Homo sapiens: one gene and its partners. The protein of the gene in region 3 purifies or fractionates together with the protein of the main gene of each other region. This does not show direct contact. Each region holds a gene or a part of one and is shown on either strand. Other genes may lie near its edges.

Evidence for each region.
Region 1: the proteins of KBTBD8 (region 3) and PKN1 purify together in Homo sapiens (affinity purification with western blotting; 3 studies listed by BioGRID and IntAct, with this or other methods). This does not show direct contact.
Region 2: the proteins of KBTBD8 (region 3) and ARRB1 purify together in Homo sapiens (affinity purification with western blotting, with the first as the bait; one study listed by BioGRID). This does not show direct contact.

The regions. Positions count from the first base shown.
Region 1 is NC_000019.10:14,453,755-14,457,406, forward strand, and holds part of PKN1 (serine/threonine-protein kinase N1), read left to right. Parts: intron 1-3,652. UniProt on the Homo sapiens protein: PKC-related serine/threonine-protein kinase involved in various processes such as regulation of the intermediate filaments of the actin cytoskeleton, cell migration, tumor cell invasion and transcription regulation.
Region 2 is NC_000011.10:75,345,147-75,348,798, reverse strand, and holds part of ARRB1 (beta-arrestin-1), read left to right. Parts: intron 1-3,652. UniProt on the Homo sapiens protein: Functions in regulating agonist-mediated G-protein coupled receptor (GPCR) signaling by mediating both receptor desensitization and resensitization processes.
Region 3 is NC_000003.12:67,001,302-67,004,953, forward strand, and holds part of KBTBD8 (kelch repeat and BTB domain-containing protein 8), read left to right. Parts: intron 1-1,893; coding exon 1,894-3,008; intron 3,009-3,652. UniProt on the Homo sapiens protein: Substrate-specific adapter of a BCR (BTB-CUL3-RBX1) E3 ubiquitin ligase complex that acts as a regulator of neural crest specification.

The DNA of each region.
Region 1 (3,652 bases), on a different chromosome or scaffold from region 3:
GCTTGGTGGTGGTGCACGCCTGTAGTCCCAGCTACTCTGGAGGCTGAGGCAGGAGAATTGCTTGAATCCGGGAGGCAGAGGTTGGAGTGAGCAGAGATCATGCTACTGCACTCCAGCCTGGGTGACAGAATGAGACTCCATCTCAAAACAAACAAACAAACAAAAAAACAAGAGTAACCATATGATCCAAAGCTACTTCTGGGCATATCCCCAAAAGAATTAAAAACAGGGCCTCGGACATTCCATAATGCATACATATTTCAAAACAACATGTTGTGCATGATAAATATATATAATTTTTATTTGTCAGTTTTAAAAATAGTGATAGAAAAATATTTAAAAAAAAAAAAAAGGGTCTCAGAGATATGTATACCTGTGTTCATAGCAGCATTATGAAAGCCAAAAATGGAAGCAACCCAGATCCACCAATAGATGAATGGGTAAACAAAACGTGGGCCAGCCATGCAATGGAACATTGCTCAGATTTAAAAAGGAAAGAAATCCTGCCAGGCGCAGTGGCTCATGCCTGTAATCCCAGCACTTTGGGAGGCCGAGGCAGGTGGATCACTTGAGGTCAGGGGTTCGAGACCAGCCTGGCCAACATGGTGAAACCCCATCTCTATTAAAAATACAAAAATTAGCCGGGTGTGGTGGCACATGCCTGTAATCCCAGCTACTCAGGAGGCTGAGGTAGGAAAACCGCTTGAGCCCAGGAGGCAGGCGTTGCAGTCAGCCAAGATCATGCCACCGCACTCCTGCCTGGGTGACAGAGTGAAACACTGTCTCAAAAAAAAAAAAAAAAAAAAGGAAAGGAATCCTGTCTTATCCTGCAACACGGATGAATCTTGAGGACATTAGTCTAAGTGAAATAAGCCAGTCCCCAAAAGACAAATATTGTATGATTCCAGTTATATGAGGTTCCTAGAGTAGTTAGATTCATAGAGACAGAAAGTAGAATGATGGATGCCAGGGAGTAGAGGGAGGGGGAATGGGGAGTTTATTATTTAATGTGGACAGAGTTTCAGTTTTGTAAGGTGAAAGTTCTGGAGATGGATGGTGGTAATGGTTGCACAGCAATGTGAATGTACTTAATGCCACTGAACTGGATGGACACTTTAAAGTGATTATGATGGTAAATTTTATGTTACATGTATTTTACCATAATTTTTTTTTTCTTGAGACAGATTCTCCTCTGCTGCCCAGGCTGGAGTGCAGTGGCACCGTCTCAGCTCACTGCAACCTCTGCCTCCTCGGTTTGAGCGATTCTCTTGCCTCAGCCAACCCAAATAGCTGGTGGGATTACAGGCGTGCGCCACCACACCCGGCTAATTTTTGTATTTTTATGGAGATGGGGTTTCACCATGTTGGCCATAATTTTTTTAAAAGAAAATTTGATTCGTAATCTCATGGCAAAAAAGGAAAAAGAAAGAAAATTAATACGTATGTACAAAAAAAAAAGGGAGTGTGGAGAAGAGTAACAGGAGAGCAGACACCCATATTACCACCACCTGCGTTAGGAAATAGAATATGGCAGCCAGGTGCCACGGCTCATGCCTGGAATCCCAGCATTTTGGTATTTGTAGGAGGATCACTTGAACCCAGGAGTTCAAGACCAGCCTGGGCAACATAGCAAGACCTTGTCTTTACAAATAATTTAAAAATTGGGGCATATGGCCAGGTGTGGTGGCTCACGCCTGTAATCCCAGCACTTTGGGAGGCCGAAGCGGGTGGATCACAAGGTCAGGAGATCGAGACCATCCTGGCTAACACAGTGAAACCCCAACTCTACTAAAAATACAAACAATTAGCCAGGCGTGGTGGTGGGCGCCTGTAGTCCCAGCTACTCGGGAGGCTGAGGCAGGAGAGTGGCATGAACCTGGGAGGCAGAGCTTGCAGTGAGCCGAGATCGCGCCACTGCACTCCAGCCTGGGTGACAGAGCAAGACTCTGTCTCAAAAAAAAAAAAAATTGGGGGTACATGTCATCAGGCCCTCCTGAATCTGTGTCACAGAAAAAAAAACTAAAGGGAAAAAAAGAGAAGACAAGCCAACCAAAAATTAACCAGGCGTGGGCATGGTGGCTTGTGCCTGCGGTCCCAGCTACTTGGGAGGCTGAAGTGGGAGGATTGCTTGAGCGCAGGAGGTCAAGGCTACAGTGAGCTGTGATTGCACCACTGCATTCCAGCCTGGGCAACTGAGCGAGACCCCATCTTAAAAAAAAAAAAAAAGGAAAAGAAATAGAATATTTCCAGCTCTCCAGAAGCCCCCTCTTGTCTCCTCCACAATTCCATCTCCTTCCTCTGCCATAGAGGTGGCTACTCTCCCGACTTTTATCATTTCCTTGCTATAATTTGTAGTTGTAGAACCCCATGTTTGCATCCCCAAAAACTTTTGTTTAATTTTGCCTGGTATTAGAACTTTATATTGACAGGCTCATACAGACTATTCTATCACATGGCTTCTTTCATTCAACATTGTTTAGGGGCTAGGCATAGTGGCTCATGCCTGTAATCCCAGCACTTTGAGAGGCCGAGGTGGAGGGATTGCTTGAGCCAAGGAATTTGAACCCAGCCTGGGCAACATGGTGAAACCCCACCCTACAAAAAAATGCAAAAAACAAAACCAAACTAAAAAAAGCATTGTTTTGGTAGACTCATCCATTTTGTTGTGACAAGCTATAGTTAATTCATATTTATTCCTGTTTAGTAATCCATTATGTTAGACTGAGCCATATCGAATTGCCTCTTTCTGAAAGCAAAAAAATAGTTAAATATCAGCAATTTCGTACTTCAGCTACTAAGATGGTATAGCAGTTTTAAAATATTAATTCTCCTGTTAATGGACTGTGGGATGCCTCTATTTTGGACTGTTACATACACTTTATATAAATGCATCTCCTGATGTATACCCACATGCATTTGGCTAGGGTAAATCCTCAGGAGTGCCTGGGCGCGGTGGCTCACGCCTGTAATCCCAGCACTTTGAGAAGCCAAGACCAGTGATCACTTGAGGTCAGGAGTTCAAGACCATCCTGGCCAACGTGGCAAAACCCCATCTCTACTAAAAACACAAAAATTAGCTGGGCATGGTGGTGTGCGCCTGTAGTCTGAGCTACTTTGGAAGCTGAGGCACGAGAATTGTTTGAACCCAGAAGGTGGAAGTTGCAGTGAGCCGAGATTGTGCCACTGCACTCCATCCTGGGTGACAGAGAGAGACTCTGGCTCAAAAAATAAATGAATAAATAAATCCTTAGGAGTATGTGGCTGGGACTTCCATGTAGAATAAAATTGAATTTGGATCCCTGCCTCACATCACACCATGTAAAAAAATCAACTGGATTAAAGGCTTCAATGTCAAATGCAAAACTTTACAGTGGGAGAAAAGTTATGGAGGGGAGGATTCATTTTAAAAAGATAGCAGACAGCTAGGCCTGGTGGCTCATGCCTGTAATCCCAGATACTTGGGAGGCTGAGGCAGGAGAATATCACTTGAGGCCAGGAGTTTGAGACCAGCCTGGGCAACATAACAAGACTCATCTCTACTGAAAAAAAAAAAAAAAAAGAAAAAGATAATAGACATGCCCCTTTCTGCCAGGATTTTCTTTCTTTTTCTTTTTTTTTTTTCTTTTTTTTTTTTTTTGAGATGGAGCTTCAC
Region 2 (3,652 bases), on a different chromosome or scaffold from region 3:
GGGCAACATACCATCTCTACAAAAAACACAAAAATTAGCTGAGTGTGGTGGCACATGCCTATAGTCCTAACTACTCTGGAGGCTGAAGTGGGAGGATCACTTGAGCCCTGGAGGTTAAGGCTGCAGTGAGCCATGATCATGCCACTGCACTCCAGCCTGGATGAGAGAGTGAGACCCTGTCTGAAAAAATAAAAAAAAAAAATACCTGGACAGGACTAATCACAGGGCAGGAGTATGATGGTTGCTGCAAGGTGCTCTGGGAACAATCATATATTCATTCAACAAATGTTGATGAGTGCCTTCTGAGTGCCCAGGGCCTGGGGATTCAGCAAGGAAGGAGTCTACTCTGTCCTCCAGGGATTTAGAGCAGAGCAGGTGGTCATAACGCAGGATGACATGTGTTGTGGGAGGCTTAAGGAGAAGTCCCCAACCCAGGCCCAGGCAGGGAGCATGGTACAGGAAGCTCTCCTGGAAAGGAGGTGGCGTTGGAACTACTGAGCTTCATCTGGAAGGATGAATAGGCCAAGGGGGCGGGATTGGGAATGATATTTCTGGCCAAGGGTGCAGAATGTGCAGTGGCTTGGAGGCAGGAAGCAAGGCGTGCAGCCTGGGGCCTGGGCTGGGGATGATAGTGAGCCTTAAGAGGTAAACACAGACCGGTCACCAGCAGTCTGGGAATGTCAGGCTAAGGAGAGAGCATTTTCTCCTGAAGTGGATGGTGATTCAGAGAAGAGTGTGAGGCAGCAGAGGGCTGGAAGCAGATGTTTTCATTTCAGAGAGATGTCTTTGGCAGCGCCAAGTAGGGTGGATGGGAAGAGCAGGCCTAGAAGCAGGAAGACCAGTGAGGAGGCTGGGGAGAAACCTGAGAACTAAGGCTGTGAGCTCTGAACTTAGGCTGCAGAGAGGATAGAGTTGAGAAATATGAATGTGAATAGGAGGTGGAGTCCATCAACCTTGCTGGTCGATTGGACCTTTGCCAGGTATCTGGTGTGTGTTAGAATTACACGCATAATCTCAATGAATTCAACTGTAATCTAGTAGTGTAGTCATTGTTGTCCCCATTTTGCAGATGAGGAAACAGACTAGAAGAGATTAAGTATTTGTTCACTGCCATTCAGCCAGCAAGCATAAGAACCCAGGCCTATTGACCCACAAAGCCCTCTCTGCTACTCGACGCTTTTGCCCAAGAGAGGGGGCCTTGTCTGGCTCACAGTTGGCCTCCCCAGCAGCTCCCAGCCTCAAGTTGTGCGTCCTTTCTGGGCCTTGCCGTTTCCACTTACTCAACAGACAACATGAAGGATCAGATTTAGACAACAGGAGGGACTTCCTGAGAGGCAGTGGTAGGGAATGGAATTTCCTTTCCTGCAGATGAACTCCTCTTTTTTCAGAGAAAGGAGGGTGATGAGGACATGTAATCACCAGCTCTCTGTGAACTTTGGCTGTCATTTCTCTTGGTGGTTAAGCCCTGTGTGACCCATCTTGGCTGGAACATGGGGAAGTCCTGTGGCTTTGGCCAGGGCTGCTCATGGGGCCGCTGGGAGTGGTAGCATCAAGTCTGGCCCACTGTCTCTGATCCCTGATTCCAGGCCGGCCTCTGGGCTTCAGACTTCTCCACTGCTCTCTTCCTTCCAAGTTTGGGCCTCCTTGCCTGAGGCTGACGCCTCCCGTTGGCATGGGTCCAGAGGTCCTGAGTTGTGGGCTTGCCACTTCCAGGGCTTCTGACACTTTGGGTTGGTGGCAGTAGAACAGCAGGCTGGGAGTCAGCACACCCCAAGTGAGGTCCTGGCCTCTACACAGCCATGCTCCGCTACTGCCAGAGTGCCCGCGCCTACCATCTGGCTGAGGCCTGCATGGCTGGGAGCAGCTTGGTGAGGGAGCCAGGGCAGTCTGTTATAGGCTGGACGTAGTGGGGCTTCTGCATAGAAGGGTCTGGATCCTGGGGTAAGAATCAAGGTGCGAGGCAGGGCTTTGGAAATGTGGATGAATGACATCGCATAGGGAGGAGGTATAGAGTATGAAGAGAGGATGATTAGGGACAGCCAGGGCCTTGGAGAGCACCAGTGCCTGGGTATGGAGAGAAGAGGGAGGAAACTGACGGAAGGCCATATTCTTGGAGCCAAAGAAGCAGGGACAGACCCACAGAGGATGAGCTGGAGCGAGACCCCTCAGATTCAGCCAGAAGGCATTAGCTGGTGGCATGGGTTTTGGTGGAGTGGTGAGGGCAAAACTAGGCTACAGCGGGCAGAGAGGAGTGGGAGGGGACCCTGCTTTTCTACATGCCTGGAGCAAGGCTTGAGCCTCTTGGAGGAAGGGCGTGAGGCCCTGGGCTGGGAGCAAGCAGTATGGCGGCAGGCAGTGAAGACTGGGTATGGGAACCTAGGGGTTTTATCTCATCCACCCCCTCCCTCTGCCTTATGTCCAGAGGCAGAAGACCACTGCCCTGTGCTCTCCTTTCAGGCTCAGGCTGAGGGGTTGTGAAGTGTGAGCTGGTCCTGGGGAAGACATGTAATGTGCTGGCTCCAGAAAGGAGGGGCTTCTGACTCAGGTGGGGGACTTGGAGGAAGGCTTCTTTGAAGAGGTGACCCCGGAGCTGGGTGCTGGAGTATGAGAAAGACTTAGGCAGGAGTAAGGTGTTCTAGACAGAAGAAAGAGCCTAGGCCAAGGTGCAGATACTGGCTGCAGGTGTGGGAGTGTGAGGGGTGAGGCTGTGGAGGAAGGGACAGCCTTGGCCAGCAGGTCTTGGATGCTGGAGGGGGTGGTTTCAAGGTACTTTCTTATTCATTCATACCTCAGGCTGAGTGAGCTCCCCATTTGGTAAGCAGCTTGTGGTTCAGGGCTATTTCTGTTTCTCAGTTGATGCTTCCTTACCCACGCTGGGTCTGCTTCCCCAGGAGATGCCTGGCAGAGGTTTGCTGAACTGGACTGAAAATTTTTTTCCCTTCTTGCCTCTGCTATCGGTCCAGGGACTCCCTAAGTGCTGAAATTAGGCCTTTCCCATTAGTGAATCGTAAGACTGAAAGCGATATTTCCCACATTAGGCAAGTTCTCAAAAGAGAGGGGTGGGGTCCTGACTCCTCCATCAGACTGGGAAGTCCTGAGGGACAGGGTTATACCACTCCTATTAGCATGGGGCGCCTGAGCGGGAGGCCTGGGGCTCCCTCATCTGATTGGCTTTTGCAGGTGGGAGCCATGTCTCCCTCCTCAGACTGGAGGCTTCTGAAGGAAGGATGTCTCCTCCATCACACCGGGGGCTCCTGAGGTTGGGGCCTTGTCTCCCATGTGAGCCCTGGGATTAGAACAGGTATCGTCTCAGATGGTCCCTGGGCACCCTGTGTTCTTCCCTCCTATGTGGACAGGATGGTTCCTGTCCCAGGGGTGGCTTGAGTCCTAGTAGGGGGTTGGAGAACAGAGGGGGTTGGCAGGACAGGGTGGCTGCTTTTGAGAGGGTAACAAAGGACTCTGTTGTCCCAGCCCCCTCCCGCCTTCCCTAAGGGGCCCTGGCAGGGTCATCTCTCGGGAGACGCGCCTCCTCCTTCCTGGGACTGGCCCCATCTTTAGCCCCACTTCAGAAGAACTGCTTGTTCCTTCCCAGGAGACCTGGTGCCAGATGAAGCCCCTGGGAGTTGGACAAGACAGGTCCCCAGAATTGTGT
Region 3 (3,652 bases):
AAGAATTAGAACGGCTGGAAATCTGGAATGGCTGTTTCATGATACCAGTAACTCATCAGAATTGAAATTTGTATGATTATTAGAAATTTTTTGCTGCTCTGGATTTTGTGTGAGGAAGTGCCCTGGCTTCATTTATGTTGAGTTTACATGAAGAACTTACTAGAACAGAGGAAAACTCATGAAGTGTGAGACCACTCCTGTGTGTAAGATGAGCCTATTCAAGTCAGCAGTAGTTCCCATGATAAAGGGATATGTGGTAATGTCTTCCTTTGGGAGTTAATGTCTCCCTAATGCAGGGCTTTATTTTTCTTTTTAATTGGTAGCTGTATCGGTGAGTCTTTCAGCACCTGAATTGAAAACCAGCACATACGTAGGAACATCTAGTTTTTAGTCATCAAAAAAGCCAGTGTGATACTAAATTAAAATGTACATTGTAGAAGTAAAAACAGGACTCGAAGATGATTAACCTGGGCAGCAAGTTGAGTCCTTGTACCTCCAGTGTTTCTCATACTGCATTTTAAAATTAATTCCATGAATTTGAGAGATATTTTTTAAGTGACTGGAAATCTTTGCAATTCATTTTTCATAAGATCACAAAAATTAAATAGGATGAGTCTGGATCATCTAGAATGAAACTTTAAAGGAGCGAAAAGAAAGGCAAATGATGTTTGCAAGTGACTAATACTTAAAGAGCCAGGCTGCTTAATGTTTCGGTCAAGAAAATCCCATAAATGCAACAATATTTTAATAATAGAAAAAACCAACTTGGTCTCGAAGGTAAAAGTTTGGGGTTTTAAAAACCATTATCTTCAAAGAATCAGTTAACTATTAAACTCTGTTTAAAACAGGCATTATGTATTGACTCTACCATAATCTTTATTTATGTCTAGATTTAGGTAGGTAAAATATGGTATCTTTGAGAAAATGAAGTATTTCCTTTTAAGCAAATGTTCTCAAAATTTCCAAGGGTAAGTGAAGTGATTATTATATTACTTATAATGGTTAAGGCAGCATTCAAAAGATGACAGTTTTAAAAAGGAGTAGGTGGAGAATATGTACTTTTAAAGAACTTCTTGCTTTTCTAAGATGAACATTTTAAAGATATATTTTGGATACAAGTTGCCTTGTAATTTTCACCAGGACATGAAAAGTTTTTATTAGGTTGTTTCTTTGTATGCTAATGTATCATGTTGATACCTTTATAGGTATTCTTTTTTTTTTTTTTTTTTTTTTGAGATGGAGTCTCACTCTGTCTTCCAGGCTGGCACTCAGCTCACTGCAACCTCCGCCTTCCGGGTTCAAGCGATTCTCCTGCCTCAGCCTCCTGAGTAGCTGGGATTACAGGGATGTGCCACCACGCCCAGCTAATTTTTTATTTTAGTAGAGATGGGGTTTCACCGTCTTGGCCAGGCAGATTTTGAACTCCTGACCTTATGTGATCCACCCACTTTGGCCTCCTAAAGTGCTGGAATTACAGGCATGAGCCACCACACCGGGCCAGTATTCTTAAGCTTTCTGACTGGCATGGCCCAATTTAAGATCTGATGTCCCTAAGGCAACTTGACCAGAACTCTGGATAGGGGCTTCTAGGAAAATAAAGTGACCTGGAATATGTGTGTCACCTTTTGATTTGCATTTACTTAGGTGTACTCTCCTTTTTTCATAGTTGGCACACAGCGAGCTAGCCCTGAGAATATGGGTTTTGAGGTTAGCCAGACTAAATCCTTCTGATACATTATCAATTTTTACTCCTATTCAGAATATCAGGGACTATTTTAGGAAATATTCTGTTTCAAAAGGTTATCTTTGTGGTAACTTTGTACTTTTAAAATCTTGCCACAATAATTTTGATTTATAGCACACGTGTAATATTAACCACTCTTTCCTTCTTAGATCCATGTTCACTAGCGGCCTTACAGAAAGTACTCAAAAAGAAGTTCGAATAGTTGGTGTTGAAGCTGAATCGATGGATTTAGTGTTGAACTATGCCTACACTTCCAGAGTTATTCTTACAGAGGCCAATGTTCAAGCCTTGTTCACTGCAGCTAGCATCTTCCAGATTCCTTCCATCCAAGACCAATGTGCTAAGTATATGATCAGTCATTTGGACCCACAGAATTCTATTGGGGTCTTTATCTTTGCTGATCATTATGGTCATCAGGAACTCGGAGATCGATCAAAAGAATACATTCGTAAAAAGTTTCTGTGTGTCACCAAAGAACAAGAGTTTCTCCAGTTGACAAAAGACCAACTGATAAGTATACTAGACAGTGACGATTTAAATGTAGACCGAGAAGAGCATGTTTATGAAAGCATTATAAGGTGGTTTGAGCATGAACAGAATGAAAGAGAAGTGCACCTTCCAGAAATTTTTGCTAAATGCATACGTTTTCCTCTGATGGAAGATACCTTTATAGAGAAAATTCCACCTCAGTTTGCACAGGCTATAGCCAAAAGCTGTGTAGAAAAGGGACCATCCAACACCAATGGCTGTACACAGAGGCTTGGAATGACTGCTTCTGAAATGATCATATGTTTTGATGCTGCCCACAAACACTCAGGAAAGAAGCAAACAGTGCCTTGTCTAGATATAGTCACAGGAAGGGTGTTTAAACTATGCAAACCACCAAATGACCTGAGAGAAGTTGGGATTCTTGTATCACCAGATAATGACATTTACATTGCAGGAGGGTACAGGCCAAGCAGCAGTGAGGTCTCCATCGACCATAAGGCAGAAAATGATTTCTGGATGTATGATCATTCCACCAATAGATGGCTATCCAAACCATCCTTGCTTCGAGCCAGAATAGGCTGCAAACTTGTCTATTGCTGTGGTAAAATGTATGCAATCGGAGGTCGTGTTTATGAAGGTGATGGGAGAAACTCACTAAAATCTGTTGAGTGCTACGACAGTAGAGAGAATTGTTGGACGACTGTTTGCGCGATGCCAGTTGCAATGGAATTTCATAATGCTGTGGAGTACAAAGAGAAGATCTATGTTTTACAGGGTAGGTGCCTAAGTGATTTAGTTTTTCATGGAAGGGTAACACATCAAGTGGTGGTTTACTTAATTATACTGAAACAGTTGTGTTCCCGTTAATTGAGGAATACCTCCAGCTTCCTTATCAAACTATTGGAACAGTCTGTTCTGTAAAGAGCTATAAAGAAAATAAACTCTTGAATTAAAAAAAGGCAGGTATTGTTAAATTACTAAAATAATCCTATAATTTTTAATGATTTTGTGTCTTGATATCATGTAGAATAACTATTTTTGAAAACATTCTTTAATAAATAATAGTTCGGCATTTTGGGATAACTATTTCAGAGTAGTTTGTAGGACTTGAAATAAATAGCAAGGTTGTTACATGGCTGTTTTTGCTCTTGAGTAAAATTGAGATGTTGTAGCAACTGGTATTCTGTGGAATTTACTGGATTAGTTTAAAAGAGAAAAGAACAAAGCATTAATTAAGTTATACTATTTAGTTACCAAAGAGTTTTATATAAGCCTTATTATTGCAAAAATTATGAAATTTAATTACAAAGAGTTTGGAAGTATGGTCTTCAAGTTTCACCTTCACTGCTGTTTATGTTGCCTTTCATAATACATTTTCAATTTTTTTCACCGGAAAACTTTGAGATGTCCCTTTTTTTT